2 separate regions of the Homo sapiens genome follow, and region 1 is linked to region 2. Evidence: fine-mapped expression QTL. A gene starts in region 2. The other region holds a variant in brackets. All regions are shown on one strand. Distances are between the middles of the regions. Region 1 overlaps LINC02763 (long intergenic non-protein coding RNA 2763). Region 2 holds the start of LINC02762 (long intergenic non-protein coding RNA 2762).

Region 1 (9,175 bases), 250 kb before region 2:
TTCCTGAGACTGGGTAATTTACAAAGGAAAGAGGTTTAATTGACTCTCAGCTGCATGGCTGGGGAGGCTTCAGGGAACTTCTAATCATGGCAGAAGAGGAAGCAGGCACCTTCTTCACCAGGTGGCAGGAAAGAGAAGAGCAGGGGAAACCACTTCTATAACCATCAGATCTTGTGAAAACTCACTCAGGGGCCGGGCGCGGTGGCTCATGCCTGTAATTCCAACACTTTGGGAGGCCAAGGGGGTTGGATCACCTGAGGTCAGGAGTTCAAGACCAGCCTGGCCAACAAGGTAAAACCCGCCCCCCTACTAAAAATACAAATGTTAACCCAGGCGTGGTAGCAGGCACCTGTAGTCCCAGCTACTTGGGAGAATGAGACAGGAGAATTGCTTGAACCTGGGAGGCAGAGGCTGCAGTGAGCCGAGATCGTGCCACTGCACTCCAGCCTGGGTAACAGAGTGAGACTCCATCTCAAGACAAACAAACAAAAAACCATACAAACAAAAAAACCTCACTCATTACAAGAACAGCATGGGGGAAACCGCCCCCATAATCCAATCACCTGCCTCCCTTCACGCGTTTGGATTACAGGTCCCTCCTTCAACAGGTGGGGATTGCCATTCAAGATGTGACTTGGGTGGGGACACCAAGCCAAATCATATCACCCCTCTAATAGTCCCCAGTGTCTATTGTTCCCATTTTTATTTCTTTGTTTGGTTTTTTTTAGATGGAGTTTCACTCTTGTCGTCCAGGCTGGAGTGCAATGGTGTGACCTTGGCTCACTGCAACCTCCGCCTCCCGGGTTCAAGCAATTCTCCTGCCTCAGCCTCCCGAGTAGCTGGGATTACAGGCAGCCACCACCACGCCAAGTTAATTTTTGTATTTTTAGTAGAGACGGGGTTTCACCATGTTGGCCAGGCTGGTCTTGAACTCCTGACCTCAGGTGATTCGCCTGCCTGGGCCTCCCAAAGTGCTGGAATTACAGGCATGAGCCACCGCACCCGGCCCCCATTTTTATTTCTATGTGTACCCAATCTTTAGCTCCTGCTTGTAAGTGAGAACATCTGGTATTTATTTTTCTGTTCCTGCATTAATTCACTTTGGATTTTGCCACCAGCTCCATTCATGTTGCTGCAAAGGATATGATTACATTCTTTGTTATGGCTGCATAGTATTCCATGTATATATACTGCATTTTCTTTATCCAGTCCACCATTGATGGGTTGATTCCATGTCTTTGCTATTGTGAACAGTGCTGCAATGAACATGCTCGTGTAGGTGTTTTTTGTTAGAATGATTTATTTTGCTTTGGGTATATACCCACTAATAACATTTCTGGGCCGAATGGTAGTTCTCTTTTAAGTTCTTTGAGGAATCACCAAATCACTTTCCACAGGATCTGAACTAATTTATATTCCCACCAGCAGTGTATAAGCATTCCCTTTTATCCACAGCCTCACCAGCATCTGTTGTTTTTTGTCTTTTTAATAATAGCATTCTGACTAGTGTGAGATGGTATCTCATTGTGGTTTTGATTTGCATTTCTCTGATGATTAGTGATGCTGAGCATTTTTTTTTCATGTTTGTTGGCTGCTTGCATGTCTTCTTTTGAGAGGTGTCTATCCATATTCTTTGCTCACTTTTTAATGGGTTTTTTTTTTTTTTTTTGGCATGTTGAGTTCCTTGTAGATTCTTAATGTTAGACCTTTGTTGATGCATAGTTTGCAAATATTTTCTCCCATTCTGTGGGTTGCCTGTTTGCTGATAGTTTCTTTTGCTGTGCAGATGCTCTTTAGCTAACTTAGGTTCCACTTTTCAATTGCTTTTGAAGACTTAGTCATAAATTCTTTGCCAAGGCTAATGTCCAAAATGATATTCCCTAGGATTTTTATACTTTGAGGTCTGACATTTAATTTTTTAATTTTGTATTTATTTTTTATTCATTTTTGAGATGGAGCCTTATCTCCCAGGCTGGAATGCAATGGCATGATCTTGGCTCACTGCAACCTCCATCTCCCAGGTCCAAGCAATTCTCCTGCCTCAGCCTCCTGAGTAGCTGGGATTACAGCTCCATGCCACCACACACAGCTAATTTTTGTGTTTTTAGTAGTGACGGGGTTTCACCATGTTGGCCAGGCTGGTCTCGAACTCCTGACCCTCAGGTGATCCACCCATCTCAGCCTCCCGAAGTGCTGGGATTACAAGCACACACCATCATGCCCAGCTAAGTTTTGTATTTTTAGTAGAGATGGAGTTTCACCATGTTGACCAGGCTGGTCTTGAACTCCTGACCTCAGGTGATCCACCCACCTCGGCCTCCTAAAGTGCTGGGATTACAGGCCTGAGCCACTGTGCCCGGCCCTGAGGTCTTAAATTTAAATCTTTAATTCATCTTGAGTGAACTTTTGTATATAAAGAAAGGAAGGTGTCCAGTTTCATTCTTCTGCATAGGGCTAGCTAGTTGTCCCAACACCATTTATTAAATAGGGAGTCTTTTTTCCATTGCTTATTTTTGTTGACTTTGTCAAAGATCAGATGTTTCTAGGTGTACAGCTTTATTTGAGTTCTCTATTCTGTTTCATTGGTCTATGTGTCTGTTTTCATACCAGTACTTTGCTTTTTTGTTTATTATAAAGTACTTCACATATATTAATCCACGTAATCCTCACAATACTTTGTGCTAGTCACTATTATTTCCATTTTGTAGGTGAAAAAAACTGAGGCACAGAGAGGTTAAGTGACTTGCCCAAGGTTACTCACTTATAACTGTTAGAGCCTATACTCAAACCCAGACACATTGGCTCCAGAGTATACCCTAAAACAAATGGACCTCACTAATGTGATGAACCCTTAATAGCCCTTAAAACTTGGATAGCAATGTTTCATTGAAACTTAAGCTCAACCAGTTAATTTTAAGAGAAAAGAAAACATAGTTCAATTGGAATGAGCATTTTCTAAAGTGATAAAGTTGATGGAAAGCCATAAATTTAAATCACCTCTAATCCAACTGGTATTTTATTTGTGCTTCTGTCTGTAAGGACCTGTGTCCTGCTTCTACAGGAGAACCCACTATTCTGCTAGGAGCTGCGAAGCAGCTCCTTAGAGAACCTCAACATCCTGTTTCTCAGATGACTTCACAGTAAACATCATTGGTTGGTTTTGACTCTGAGTTTTTGTTTCCAATAAGCTTTCTTTATCATCTCATGGGAATGGAAGGTGAAGGGAAAAGAAGAACCAGAGTAAACTAACCACACACACAACACGTACACACACATATATGCACATATACAGACACACATGTGCATGCATACACAGACACACAAACACACATACACACATGCATACATGTACACACACATGCATACCTTATTTAGATGTTTATACTAACAAGGAGAGAGTTGAAGGAAAAAGTATCAAGTCTACTTATCCTTACATAAAGCCAAGAGAGACAAAGAGGCTTGCTTGGTATCTCACGGGATGGCAGAAAAAGCCAAGACTGAAAACTCCTGTCCCCATGTTCTGCAAAGAACTCCTGTCCCCAAGTGCTTCATAGAGAACGTGGTGAATCACACATTCCAGGCCTCATCCTTTGAGATTCCAATTCAGCAGTTTGGGTGGGGCCCATGCAGTTGCATTTCTGATGAGCTCCCAGATGATGCAGCTGCTGCTGGTCCACACACACCTCAATAAATAACCACTGCCCTATTCTGTCCCATTTCTCCCATCAAGGCCCACTAATTTTTTCTGGAGTGGGCTCTTTTGCCCAGCCTGGCCCAGTGGGCACAAGTGTCTGTGTTGGTTCCATTGATTGGGAAGTTCAGCTCATGGTCCTTGGTCATCCATGACCAGAACCTATTTTTAAACAGAATCCAGGAAAGGGGGCCAAATAGGCCTTCTGTTTTCACTCTTCTGCCCCACCTCCTGTCCCACCTAGCTTGAGGGTGGGGGGGGTTCTGTTTTCTAGGAGTACAAAGGAAACTGTTCTTAATTAGAACAGAACTGGAAGGACTGCCCTAAT[C/T]TGGAGCAGTTTGGTTTGGTTTTCTAGTCACCTGTTTCTCAGGTCACAGGTGCCCCTGGCCTTTGCTGATACTACATTGTCTTCCTCCTCAGGACTCCCAAGGGAACTGAGACCTGTCCTCTCTCTTTCCCAGAGACAAGCTTACCACTCACCTCAGGGCTTGCCTGATCCCTCTGTCATCTTCCTGGAGCTGGGGCTTGGGGCAACCAGAGCCATGAGACTAAAACTAGATCTGTGGGCAGGGGAGGGGGGTGGGCAGAAACATCGGGAACACAGGATGGGCAAGAGTCTGGAGGCCAGTGGTGTACACTCTCACTGCAGGGAGCACCTGGATGCTGGCTGGTTTCACGCTGCACTTTGGGGCTATGGAGGACAAATTTCCTGAAAATACTTAGCTGGGTCAAGTCAAAATCATAAGTCTTCTGCAGCCCAGATTCCCCTCTTTGAGAATATGTGCCCTCCCCATCAAAGGGAGCCAGGGCTCTCGTTTTAGCCTCATTAAGGGAAGTCTCTGATAAAACTCAGATATTGGACATTGGGAACTTCATGATCTTTTCCAGTCTTATTTATAAAGAAGATCATAGGGTACCTTCATTCGCTATTGGTACAAATGGAAATTGTTCTGTTCTCTCTGAAAGAAAACACGACGCAGCATGTGAAAGACCTTTAAGTGGGTAATTCTGCTTCTAGGAGTTTGCTCTAAGGAAATAATTGGACAAGGACTGAAAGATGAATGTACAAGGATACTCATTCCAACATTATTAATAGCAAAAAAAGTAAACATCCTAAATGCGTGAATAAAAATTGGAGTTTGGTTAAATGAACCATAGGAAATACAATCACTGAAATATTATGTGACTAATAAAAATGATGTTAGACACAAGAAAATGTTCGTAATGACAATGCCACATTATAAAATGTAGTCTATAAGACAGTACATATAAAATGATATTTTTGTAAAACCGTATGTGACTGTGTGTGTGTTCTCTGGAATGAAAAGAACACTAAAAGGGCATACAACAACACGTTAAAAGCTGTTATCTTTACATGATGAGTACACAGGAAATTTCTGAATTTTTTTCCTCCTATGCTTCTTTTATGTATTATTCAAGCATCCAAGTTTCCCACCTGGAGCATACAATGGAATAAGAAAAAAAATTATAGAATAAATAAAATCACTATGAATTGTACAATTTTAGGTGTCCTGAATGAGCCATGATAAATATTTTGGGGTACAACTTTCCTATTGTTTCTGTAATCTATTTCCATATAATAAACTTAGAAGGATAATTGTAAATACAAAGATTAATCTTTTAAAATCTTGCATGCACATGTGCAGACAGGCCAGTGTACTAGTCTAAGAAAACACATCTTCAGTACATAATATACATATTCATTGGTCTCTTCACTCCTTCCATCCCCCACTCAAGCAACAAAGATTTTTTTTTCCCCACAATGTCTCCTAGCAGCCAAACACAGGCACTGCTAATGAATATTAATTGACCTAACATCTTGTGGTGATGAAACTGCACATTTCGCTGTCTCATTTGGTTGCTAGGGAACCATGTGAGACAGCCACGGGGCTCTGGGACCCAGACCTTTTAAGTACAGGGCAGGGTTAAGCTACAAATCAAAGTACTCCACCCAATGAATTGGGTATACAAGGAACTATATGTATGTATGTGATCCTGTCAGATAAACAAGAAACAAAAACATGGCAATAGGCAGTTTGGCAGTGGGCAGGCAAGCTGGTGGAGATGGGCATAGAGTCTCAGTTACTGCAGCCCCTCCCCATGGATCTCCTGCAGTCCCCTCTCTCCAGGGACCCACTGGCACCATTGTTTCTTCCTTGCCATCCTTCAAGGTCTACAGTAGAACCGCGCAGTTGGGGCTGGAGGCAGCACGGGGGAAGGGGAAGGAGAGAATGTGGTAGTTGGATGTAATTGCCCTGAAATTGTAGGCATCATTTTCTGTCATCCCAGTGCTCATATTAGATGCAAATAAGCTGATGAGTGAACCTGGCCTACCTGCAATTTTCCTTCTGCACTTGACTTTGATCTTCTTTTCTCCTCCCTTTCCCTTCTCTTCTGTCACTCAGCAAGCAGAGAACTCATGCTCATCAGTGCTGGTCTCTGGTCTGGCCACCTTGAACCCTTGCACTAAACAAAGAGCAAATTTTCCCACCTGGGCTTCTGGAAGAAAACCCTCATGGAAACTCCTCATTCCCTATGCCTCCTGCTTCTCTTTCCTCCCCAGTCTTCTCCCTTTAAGCCCTTACTTTACACCACTTTTCCTAACCATTTCCCCCTTTCCAACTGTCTAAGCACCTTCCCTATAAAATGAAGACGTCTCTGTCCTTTGGCCCCACAGGCATACCAAAGACTTTCTCTTTCTGTTTGGCAGGCCCCCTAAAGGTGAGGGTTGAGCTCTGGTCTCAGCATCTGCAGGCTTGACTGAGAAATGGGAGGGTGAGTTCTAGTTCCTGGAAGTGAAAGGCAGTGAGGCTGGGGTGGTGGGTGCTCTCATCTGGCTTCATCTGGTTTCCCTTCAAGTACCTGAGCAAACACAACCGTGAGGATTAACTTCATGCCAAAGACTGCCTGTCCATATTTTTAGAAATTATATTTTTATTTCCACATATTCAGTCATTCATTTAACGAATATTAATTGAGCACTTACTCCTAGCCCAGAACTTCTGCTAGGCCCTATGTGGATTCAGTAACGACTCCAAACAGACACAGCCCCCAGTATGACAACATGGGGAGAGACACAGAGATGGAGCTTAAAACATTATGGAAAATCCTGAAAATAATCAAATAAATTCACAAATAAATATAAAGCCACAGCTGTGGTATAATAAGGCAAGGCATATGGAGCCATGGAAGGAGGGGGCTGCTCCCTTAATCTTAGGGGCTAGGGAAGGCTTTCCTGAGGATGGTGACCCTATTTCTTGGGGAATACTAAGCTTCACCGTTCGCCACCCTCCATGACCTCACCAACATCAAATGGTGCCTGTTTCCTCTTCTGGGTGGAGTGGAGGTTGTGGGGCTGGAAGGAAAGGAGGTTCTAGGCTCTTCTAAATGAGAAAGATAAATGTGCTCACTTGTTTTCTTGCTTTCTCTCGCCTATCTCCTTTGAATTTGAAAATGTTTGTCAACAAAGATTCTAAAGGAAACTCCATGTCCTTAAACACATAAACCACTTTCCACAGGGATGGCTCCTGGTGGCATAGGCTTCCTCATTGGCTAATGGTGTGGGTGGAAGCAGAGATGATGGGCATGAGAGTACAAGATGAGAGGATCCCAGAAGTCCAATGGCTGTACTCAGGGAAGAATAGTAGAGACATCTTGAGCAAAGGGGTGAGATCCCGGCATGAGAACATGGGGAGACACAGAGCTGGAGAAACAAAGAAGAGGCCAGAGGCTGGTATCCAATGAGGGAGACTGGGAGATACATCCCAGGGAGACATGGGGGACAGAGCAGCTGCTGCCTTCCCCAGTTTTCACTACAAGGTCTTAAGTCCAATCTAAATTTTCATCCGGGCACGGTGGCTCATGCCTGAAATTCCATCACTTTGGGAAGCCAAGGTAGGCAGATTACTTGAGGTCAGGAGTTTGAGACCAGCCTGGCCAGCATGGTGAAACTTTGTCTCTACTGAAAATACAAAAAATTAGCCAGGCATGGTGGCATACACCTATAATCCCAGCTACTTGGGAGGCTGAGGCAGGAGAATTGCTTGAACTTGGGAGGCAGAGTTTGCAGTGAGGCTAAATTGTCCCACTGCACTCTAGCCTGGATGATAGATCAATGAGATTCTGCCTCAAAAAATAATTAATTATTTCCCAAATACCTGGTGATGGAAATGTGTGAGGAGAGTTGCATCTATTTCACGGTTGGTTTGGAAAAACAGCTACCCCAATGACAGCTGGATCACCTCAGAATTGGAAGAGATCCAAAAGTCATCCAGCTCTTCACCAGTAATCTGATTCATTCCTCCAGACAGAGGTCCAGCTTTTGTTTGAGCACAAAAAAAAATGAGCTCCCCTACTCCCTAAGGCAGCAGTTCTAAAACTGAGAAAGGTTTTCCTTATACTGAGAGCAACTCTGCCCACAACATCCATTTCCTGGGTCATGGTCTTCAATTGGGAGCTACATAGATAGATTAGATTGGCTCCTCATCTAATGGGAACCCATCAGATACAGAAGGACACGTTTTGTCCTTTATCTCACTTCCTCATCCATTCATTCATTCCCTCTTCAGATGCTTACTGTGAGCCTCCTCTGTGACATACAGCAACAGAGCAGTGGCAAAACAACTGTCAAGAAAGCCAGCCTTGCCCTCAGCTGCTCAGAGAGTTTCCTGTGGTAGATGGGGAGTGTGTGGACAACTTCAACACAGAGAGGATAGGAGTCCAGAGAAGGGCCCGTCCTTTTGGGGCATTTCAGGAATCCACTAAAATGAATTTAGCAATATTTTTATGAAGATATTTTTCAACATACAAGGCTCTAGCTGGAGCCTGTTTATGTCAGGTGGTGATTCAGAGAGGACTTGGTTTTCATGTGAACAAGGGATCCTGCAGGTTGGAATGAGTAATGCCAAGTGGGTGGCCAGATTCTGCCTGCTAGATCCAGCCACCCCACACCCATCAAGTAGAAGGTAATCCAAGAGTATCTAAAAGAAACCTGAGCTACTACTTCAGGAGATTAACTCTCCAAAGATGGGCTGAGGAGAGGTAAGGAAAAATGACTCCCTGGCTCTCTAGCCAAGTCAAGGAGAAAGATAACATCTCCTCAGTCTACACACCTGAATTCCCTGGCCTCTCAGGGCCTCTGATTCTTACAACAGAAACACTTCCACTAGGCTGTAAGCAGGACATAGTAGCTGGGAATTCTTCTATGCTAGGAACTCTCGGGGCTTTGAATTGGATATCCCTCAGGTTTATCTCAGGAATTTGGGCCATAAGATTATTGGCTGGCCAGGATACAATGCTGGGAGTCAGCAAAACAAGAAATATCTGGAAAGTGAACTTGATTAGGCAGAGATTTACTAAACTCTGACAAAGTGGTTCAAGTCTACCTCAGATTTCCCCATGGCAGTGTTAATGGCCTCATGCCCTCATCCTTGAGGAGGCGGCACTCGGGTGATGCAGGCAGAA
Region 2 (9,175 bases):
CATCCTGAGCCATAGAGTGTAACCTTATCTCAAAAAAAAAAAAATGCATGTTCCTGGACCCCCCCACCTCTGACCTACAGATCCAGAACCTGTACGCTCCAGCCCAGCCCTAATAGGCTAGTGGCTTCCCTTTGGACCCTTGGGACCAGCCAGTCTAGTCACACCACAACCATTGTCCTCAGAGAAAGCCCGTCTCACCATTTGTCCTCCACAGAACATTCCTCCAACCTCCTCCTCCCGTTCTCACTATTCTCTCCATCGCAAACCTTCCCTCTCTGCCACTTAAAACTTCCACTGCTGAGTGAGCTCCCCTACATCTTCCACTCATTCCTTTCCCTTATGAGCTTAGATGAAACCACCAGGGGAAAAATGGCAGACATGAGCTGCAATGATGGCCACCACCCCAACTCAGGGGAGCTCAGTCATCTTAGGCAGCAGGCAGCTGCAGTGATAATGGCTGCCCCCACCCCCCTGGAAACTCTTAGCAGAGTTAACAGAACAGAGCTGTTAACAAAGCTGTGCAGAGTTAACTTAACAGAGCTGTGCAGATTCTCAGCAGCCACTTGACTGGGGTCTTAGGCAGTCTCCAGTCAAGTGGCTGCTGAGAATCTGCACAGCTCTGTGCTTGGGACCCAAGGCCCTGGTAGTGTAGCTCAAAAGTGGGATCTCCTGATCTGTGGGTTGCGCAGATCCGTGGAAAAAGTACGGTTTTCTAGCAGGGTAGCATGATCACTAACCACCTCCCTTGGCTTGGGGTGGGAGCTGCCCTTTCCCCGTGTGGCTCCCAGGTGGGCCGTCGCACCACCCGGCTTTTCTTCACTCTTCATGGGTCACATCAACTGCTTAGTCAGTCCCAGTGAGAGAACCTGGATACCCTGGTTGCTGGTGCAGGATTCACTTGCCATTTTGGTTCCTCCCAGTGGGAGCCTCTGACCACAGATGTTTCTAGTTGGCCATCTTGGCCTCTCCCCCCAGTACTAATATTTTTATATGAAGAAAATAGTATCTTTGAGGTTTTAAAGGCAACTGTGAAATAAAATTGTTTCACCTCCGGGTGAAAAAAATAAAAATAATAAACAAATAAAAATAAAACTCTGTTGCCTACAGATAGAATTCAAAATGCTTAGCATGACCTATAAGACCTAGCATGACTTGGCCCCTATTTACTTGCCAGCAACAGCATCTGTCACTCTTTTTCTTGAACATTACCTTTTCATTGTTCCCTGCTCACATCACACTGTTTTGTAATTCCACACTTCTCTCTTCCAGGAACATTCACCCCAACCTACCCCTATCCTTCAAAACAGTTCATCCAGGATGGCTGCAGTGACTCACACCTGTAATCTCAGTGCTTTGGGAGGCTGAGGCAGGAGGATTGCTTGAGGCCAGAAGTTTAAGACTGCAGTGAACTATGATTCACGCCACTGAACTCCAGAGAGAGAGAGAGAGAAGAAAGAAAGAAAGAGAGAGAGAGAGGGGGGAAGGAAGGAAGGAAGGAAAGAAAGGAAGGAAGGAAGGAAGGAAGGAAGGAAGGAAGGAAGGAAGGAAGAAGGAAAGAAAGAAAGAAAGAAAGAAAGAAAGAAAGAAAGAAAGAAAGAAAGAAAGAAAGAGAAAGAAAACCAGCTCATCCACCATTTACCCAAAAAGCATTCTTTCCCTTCTTTTGTACTCCTAAGGCTTACCTCTATCTTAGCATTTACGCATTATTTTGAAATTATGTTTATGAACCTGCCTCTTAACACTAACCAAAAGCTATTCAAAAAGAGGGATAAGCCAGGCATGGTGGCTCATTCTGTAATTCCTTTGGGAGGCCCAGGTAGGAGGATTACTTGAGGCCAAGAGTTCAAGATCAGCCTGGGCAACATAGCAAGACTCCATCTCTACAAAAAAATAAAAGTTTTAAAAAGGAGAAATCTTAACTGGTCTTTATGCCCCTGCCCTAAAGCTTACCACAATGCCTGCCACATATTGGACCCTCAAAACAAATTATTGATTAATTTTCACAATGGGACTACAAGGCAGGCATTACAAATGAAAAAAACTAAGTCCCAGAAAGCCAGTTACATTCCAGGGGATGGGAGGGCAGCAACTTGAAACCAACTCTACCGCTAAGGCCTAGGCTCTCTCAAGTACAACCTGGAAAACATGAGTGAGCAAGGAGATGGAGGTGAGAATGAGGTGTCAGGGCACCCACCCAGGACATGATGCGTGAGGAATGGAGGGATATGAAGGTGGACAAGATTCTCAAGGGTGGAAGAATATGGTCATGAGGCCTTGGCATTGTGGCTTCTAAGCAGAGCCCTGATACGCTAAACTGCCTGGCAATATCAGGCCAGGCAGTTTGGTCTGACATTGCCAGTTTAGCTGCCCAGGCATGTCTGCTAGCTAAATCTAAATGCTGGGCCTGAGGTCAACGTCCCCACAAATACCCACAACTCTGCTGCACAACCATATTCAGAGTCCTGCACTTACTCAGCCTCTGCTTGCTGAGCAAGCAGATACTACCTCTCTTGAGCACAAGCCTCCAGGAAGTTCCTAATGTAGATCAAGGTGGGAATATCCATGGAATATCCAAATTATATTAGAAGGCCAGGCAGGGTGGCTCACATCTGTGATCCCAGCATTTTGGGAGGCTAAGGCAGGCGGATCACTTGGGACCAGGAGTTTGAGACCAGCCTGGGCAACAGGAAAAAACCCTCTACAAAAAAAAAAAAAAAAAATTAGCCAGGCATGGTGGCATTCACCTGTAGTCCTGGCTACTCAGGAGGCTGAGGCAAGCGGATCAATTGAGCTCGGAGATTGAGGTTGCAGTGAGCCATGATGGCACCACTGCACTCTAGGCTGGGTAACAGAAGGAGACCCTCAAAACAAACAAGCATACAAACTAACAAACAAAGTATATTAGAAGATAAATAAATATGGACTTGAGTGGACAAGAGCATCTTTGCGCCTCAGCCTCTCCTGAGAGGTGCCTCTTCTCCCACCCACCTTCCAGGGGCCTTCCCCTACAAACCTAAACATAGAAGGCAGCCAATGAAAGGGACCAAGAGGCAGATTCCTGAGATAAGCCAAGGAAAGCCCAGGCCCAGGAGCCCACAGAATGAAAAGAATATTCTCAGACAGTAGCAAAACAGGAAGACTGTTCGACACAGCTGAATGCATGCATCAGAACATGGCCGTCCCCTGCACACCCTTCTCTGGAGCTCTTAGGCTAGAAGATGATTTCTTCTGGACAAGGAAGACACAGGACATGGGGTGAAAATAATTCCAGCAAAAGAAAGCTAAATACACCATCCCGTGTTTACAAAACACAGGAAAAGTAGCGAGGGTATAGAGAACCAAGGATAAAGGCAGGATGCCCTTTTCTGGTAAACTTCATGCCAAACAAAGGTGAAGGGCCAGGATTAGCTCATTAGCGGGGAACTCAGGGCAAGAACACCCTGCCCTCTGTTCTGTCCTCACCTGAATCTCTGGGACGAAGCCAAGTTGTCACCTCCCTAAATGGTTCTAGAAACAGAAGAGTTCATGCCCTGCCTGGGGAAGGGACTTCTAGGTCTTCAGCTCTAATCATATGTTTTATGCACAGGTGGAGACATTCAGATCCATGGCCCTCACCCTGTTTCTGCTCTGCAGACTGAGATAAGAGCCTTACGTTTACAAAGTTTCACAAGAAACTGGAATTTGTTGCCCTTCTTTTCCACCTCCCTTCAGCCAGCTCCACTTTTCCTCGGATGCCATGGAGACTCGTAACCAGCTGGACAGCATACATCCCAGAGCTGGAGGGGAGCACAAGCGACCCTGACTCACCTGCCGTTGCTCAGAAGGGAGAGAAACCTGTGAAACTCGGAAATTCCCTCTGGGGGAGGTGTGGCCAGCTCCCAGGCACCACCTCCGCGGAATCTCTCCAATCATAACAAGAAGAAGGAAAACAAGCAGTTATCCAGTGCTTTCTCTATGCCAGCCATCACGCTCCACAAGTATTATGTCGTTAAAAGTTCCCAACAGCCTTATGAGATGGGCACTGTCATTCTCCCCACTTTGTGGATAAGGAAATAAAGCAGTCGCATAAATTGGTCTGGGGTCACCCTTGGTTTCCCATTGGAGTGTAGGCTTCCTGAGGTTAGAAGTTGTTTTTATGGGCTGGGTGCAGTGGCTCACGCCTGTAATCCCAGCACTTTGGGAGGCTGAGGCGGGCGGATCACCTGAGGTCAGGAGTTTGAGATGAGCCTGGCCAACATGGTGAAAACCCGTCTCTACTAAAAATACAAAAATTAGCCCGGTGTGGTGGCAGGTGCCTATAATCCCACCTACTCGGGAGGCTGAGGCAGGAGAATCGCTTGAACCCAGGAGGCGGAGGTTGCAGTGAGCTGAGATTGTGCCATTGCACTGCAGCCTGGGTGACAGAGTGAGACTCCCTCTCAAAAAAAAAAAAAAGAAGTTGTTTATATGACGCTTTGGGAGTGATATTAAGAACATAAATGCTGACTGACCAACTGAAAGATTCGAAGCACCGTGGGTATTTAATAAATGTTATTATTGATTGCTATTAAAAATCATTAATATGATTTTATATGTCTCAGGAAGCAGTACTACAAATAATTCTGAAGTTACTCTATCAATAACAAATTATGTAAGTGACAAAATTGCATTTGTTCACAAGGCTAGAAATAGAGCCTAATTGTTTTCAGGAATGTGGACATTATTTGTTTTTGTTGATAAGAAAGATTAGCTGCTATGGTATAAGTAACGATATTTAGTTGCTACTACATAGTATCAAATCAGTGCAAAAGGAAAAATCACAGATCACGAGATATATGGCAGAAGTTAGAAGAATGTAAGGGAATTAAATGAATTAAAGGCTGTTTCTGTGACTCAATTAATTAAATGATATTGAAAAGAGAAGGTAGAAAGCTGGATTCAGGGCTGATTTTCAGGAGCCTAGTTGTAAATAATTAGACCACCCCTTGGATGTGTACACGACATCAATACCTCATAGCCTCCACAGGAGCAGGGTTCATCTCCTCCTCCCAGTACCTGCAACAACAGAACCAACACGGAGATGCCAGCACGGAAATTCCCACGATCACAAACCCCACCTTTCTCTTATCATTCTGCTCTACCTTTCTTTTCCCTATATCCTTAACTTCTTACATTTTAAATCTTGTTTTCCTGTAAGCTGCTTTAAGTCCTACCTGAATAAGGCAGGGTATCAGAAAATCAATACACTCTTCAGGAACTTAACCGAAGGGAATTTCCTGTGAGAGCACATGGCCTTGACTTTGCCCCTGGAAAGGTGTCCTCGTCACATCCTTGTCAGACCACCACAGGAACCCACAGTTCATCCTGCCTGTTCCAATTCATGTCCCACTCATTAAACCGTCCTGGTTTTTTTGTTTTGTTTTGTCTTATTTTGTTTGCTGCTGAATCCTCTGGTTAAACAGCAGGAGCAATGCAGCCAAATGTCTTGATAAAATGTCACACCTTTCCATGAAATTTCTAAGTGTAGCTATGCAGGACAGAGGAAGAGCCACTTGTTTCCAGTTACTGACCTAGGTGGGCTTAGTTCTCTTCAGGTTCCTGCAGTGGGTTTCCTCTCAAGCAGAGAATTCTTTCCTCTCAAAGGAAGAAGCCACACTAGCCATGTAAAGAGAGTGTCCAAACCTTCCTCTTCCGCAGCTGGAAATACCTTCCCAGTTCCTCTTCTGTTTGGGGACTGGGAAGCTCTGAGTCCCAACTTCTCTTGTCCAGTTTCACTTTCTCACCCACCAACCCCTGCTCTCACTCTACCACTAAGTGCCCTCAACACTGATCTCTCCCTAAAAGTGACTGAAATAAATGTCCAATTTTGGGGGGATGACTGATTCTAATGTTGGGAAGAGAAGCTTAAAAGATCTGACCTCCTACTCAGTGAGAAAGGGGTCCTTGAACACCCTTCTTGAGACGTAACCTCCCTACTCCTACTTAAATGCTAGCAATTCCTGCTTTTTGCCACAGTAATGCAAGGCATTTCTGGAAGTTACGATGCAAACTAAATCTTTTTAGATCTCTGGTTTCAAAACTTTGGATTTTAGGCACCTAGATAGGTGCTACGTTTTCATTTTGTTAAATAAGGACATTTAAAAAATAAATAGGTGCCCCCTTCTGCGCAGTCACACTGAGCCAGTGCCTAGGCCTGGAACCGGGCCACGGCCCCTCAGCTTCGTCCACCGCCTCCCGACCATGGACCCCCACAAAGTGAATGCACTTCGGGCTTTTGTGAAAATGTGTAAGCAGGATCTGAGCGTTCTGCACACCAAGGAAATGCACTTCCTGAGGGAGTGGGTGGAGAGCATGGGGGGTAAACTATCACCTGCTACTCAGAAAGTTAAATCAGAAGAAAATACCAAGGAAGAAAAACCTGATAGTAAGAAGGTGGAGGAAGACTTAAAGGCAGACGAACCATCAAGTGAGGAAAGTAATCTATTAATTGATAATGAAGATGTGATTGAACCAGACCCTGATGCCCCTCAAGAAATGGGAGATGAAAATGCAGAGATAACAGAGGAGATGATGGATCAGGCAAATCATAAGAAAGTGGCTGCTATTGAAGCCCTAAATGATGGTGAACTGCAGAAAGCCATTGACTTATTCACAGATGCCATCAAGCTGAATCCTCAGTTGGCCATTTTGTATGCCAAGAGGGCCAGTGTCTTCATCAAATTACAGAAGCCAAATGCTGCCATCCGAGACTGTGACAGAGCCGTTGAAATTTATTTCAGCTCAGCCTTACAAGTGGCGAGGTAAAGCACACAGACTTCTAGGCCACTGGGAAGGAGCAGCCCATGATCTTGCCCTTGCCTGTAAATTGGATTATGATGAAGATGCTAGTGCAATGCTGAAAGAAGTTCAGCCTAGGGCACAGACATTGCGGAACATCAGAGAAAGTATGAGCAAAAACGTGAAGAGCGAGAGATCAAAGAAAGAATAGAAAGAGTTAAGAAGGCTCGAGAAGAGCAAGAGAGAGCCCAGAGGGAGGAAGAAGCCAGACGACAGTCAGTAGCTCAGTATGGCTCTTTTCCAGATGGACTTCCTGGGGGAATGCTTGGAATGAGAGGGGGCATGCCTGGGATGGCCGGAATAACTGGACTCAATGAAATTCTTAGTGATCCAGAGGTTCTTGCAGCCGTGCAGGATCCCAAAGTTATGGTGGCCTCTTCCAGGATGTGGCTCAAAACCCAGCAAATATGTCACAATACCAGGGCAACCCAAAGGTTATGAATCTTATCAGTAAATTGTCAGCCAAATTTGGAGGTCAAGAGTAATGTCCTTCTGATAAAGACCGTGCTGAAGGAAAAGCAACCTAGATCACCTTATGGATGTTGCAATAATACAAACCAGCGTACCTCAGGGGTGCTTTGAAGATAATCCATATCCCTCTCCCCCAAATGCAGCTGAAGCATTTACCATGGTTTGCCATTAGGGTATTCATTCAGATAATATTTTCCTACTAGGAATTACAAACTTTAAACCCTTTTTAAACCTTAAAAATATTTAAAACAAATTTAAAGGGACGGTTAATTCTTATATTTTTCTTTACTAATCATTTTGGATTTTTTCTTTAAATTATTGGGCAGGGAAGATACTTATGTATGGAAGATTACTGCTCTAATTTGAGCAAAATAGAAGTTTATTAGTGCGAGGCAAACATAAAAAAATAAGTAAATAAATAGGTGAAGGAGGGGAAAATCTACCATCTATAATCTACAATGACTATAGTTTCATAAAAGAAAGAACAACAAAACATCAGAAAGCTATAACATCAAAATAAAAGGCAGGCTTTAAACCAAATCAACATTTCTTTCTTTATAAAAACTGTCATAATTTTGCCCTCATCTCTGTCATTCCATGAAAACAGGTAAACAGTTGATCAAGATCATTGCCAGCCTGGAGTTTGGCAATAATTGCTATAAAGCAGGGGTTATTTTCCCAGAAGGCCATGTGACCTGGAGCAGCTCAACCAGCCAACCCCAGTCCACTGACCACGGTAGGCCAACGAGGCAACACAAGTAAAGCACAGTGCAGATCCAGCTGTGCTCTCAACATGCAATTTTGGATTAAACGAAGACACAAATATGATCAACAAAAAGTCTTGAGCAAAGATAGAGCAACTAACTATTGCTGTGATAAACTTCTCTCCAAGTTCTATCAAATGTAAGTAGATGAGGCACGTGTCCCACACGTACAACAAAATATACACACGGCATATTAAAATTAACATGTGCTGTATCTGGAATATGTCTGAATCTGAAATGCTAAGCAGAGCACACATGTATTCCCTAGATAGTAAGCTGTCCAGTGGAGAGAATCCCCAGCTGGTGGGAAGGAGGCCGGGATCTGGCCCTGACTTTGTCACTAAGTAGTTCTTAAGCCTGGGGCAAGTTGTTTAATTTTTCTGTGCTCAGTTTTCTCAGACATAATAAGGGAGTTAGATTAAAATTATCTCTTAGGGCCAGTCCTGCTTGAAAATTCTTAATGTAATACATAGCAGCGTGTTCCCCCTCTCTGAGAATTTGTAAGTCCTCGGGGAATGAGAAGAATGGTATGCATCTTCTCAAAAGCTGACCACGGGCTATCCCTAAAGCATGGGGACTCTCACTTTGGGCTATTCAAAAGCATAACACCCACAATGCTGAACCAAAGAGCCAGAGGCACAACCCAATTAGCTCATAAATCAACATGTGTGGACTTGAACATCCATTGTGGGTCAACAAATGAGAGTAACTTCTCCAGCTACCCCCAGCTCCCTGGACGCCCTTGTCCCTCGAGTTAACACAGACACTTGCCATCGGTGGTAAAAACTTCCTCTTAGAGGGTTGACTCTGTGGCATGCATGTTACATGCATTACCTCTTTTAAACCTTAACACAATCCTGCAAGGTTGGTCGGAGTCTCTCCATAATATGGATAAGAAAACTGAGGCTCAGGTAGGTTAAGTACAGTCCAAGGTTACACTGTGAGGAGGAAGATTCCAATGGAGGCCTCTTGGACTCTAACATCTGTGCCCTTTCTCACGTTCTCCATATTGCATCTGTCACACCTCTGACATGCCCAGGAGACACATCAAAAACCCCAGGGCTCCTCAGACTAGTGATCCCTGCATCCATCAGTGGTCGTGTCTGGTGAATCTCAGAGAATCT

What was found.
Region 1: its variant is fine-mapped to the expression of LINC02762 in whole blood (TOPMed, PIP 0.98).

The regions. Positions count from the first base shown.
Region 1 is chr11:112,510,907-112,520,081 of GRCh38, reverse strand. All of the region lies in intron 2 of LINC02763 (long intergenic non-protein coding RNA 2763), which reads right to left. Among named protein-coding and RNA genes, the nearest start is that of LINC02763, 33 kb to the right of the region's middle. The variant C/T (reference allele first, on the strand shown) is at 4,020.
Region 2 is chr11:112,265,416-112,274,590 of GRCh38, reverse strand. It overlaps LINC02762 (long intergenic non-protein coding RNA 2762), which reads right to left and starts at 3,842. Exons shown (of 4, transcript NR_126004.1): 1 at 3,808-3,842. It also overlaps the pseudogene ST13P10.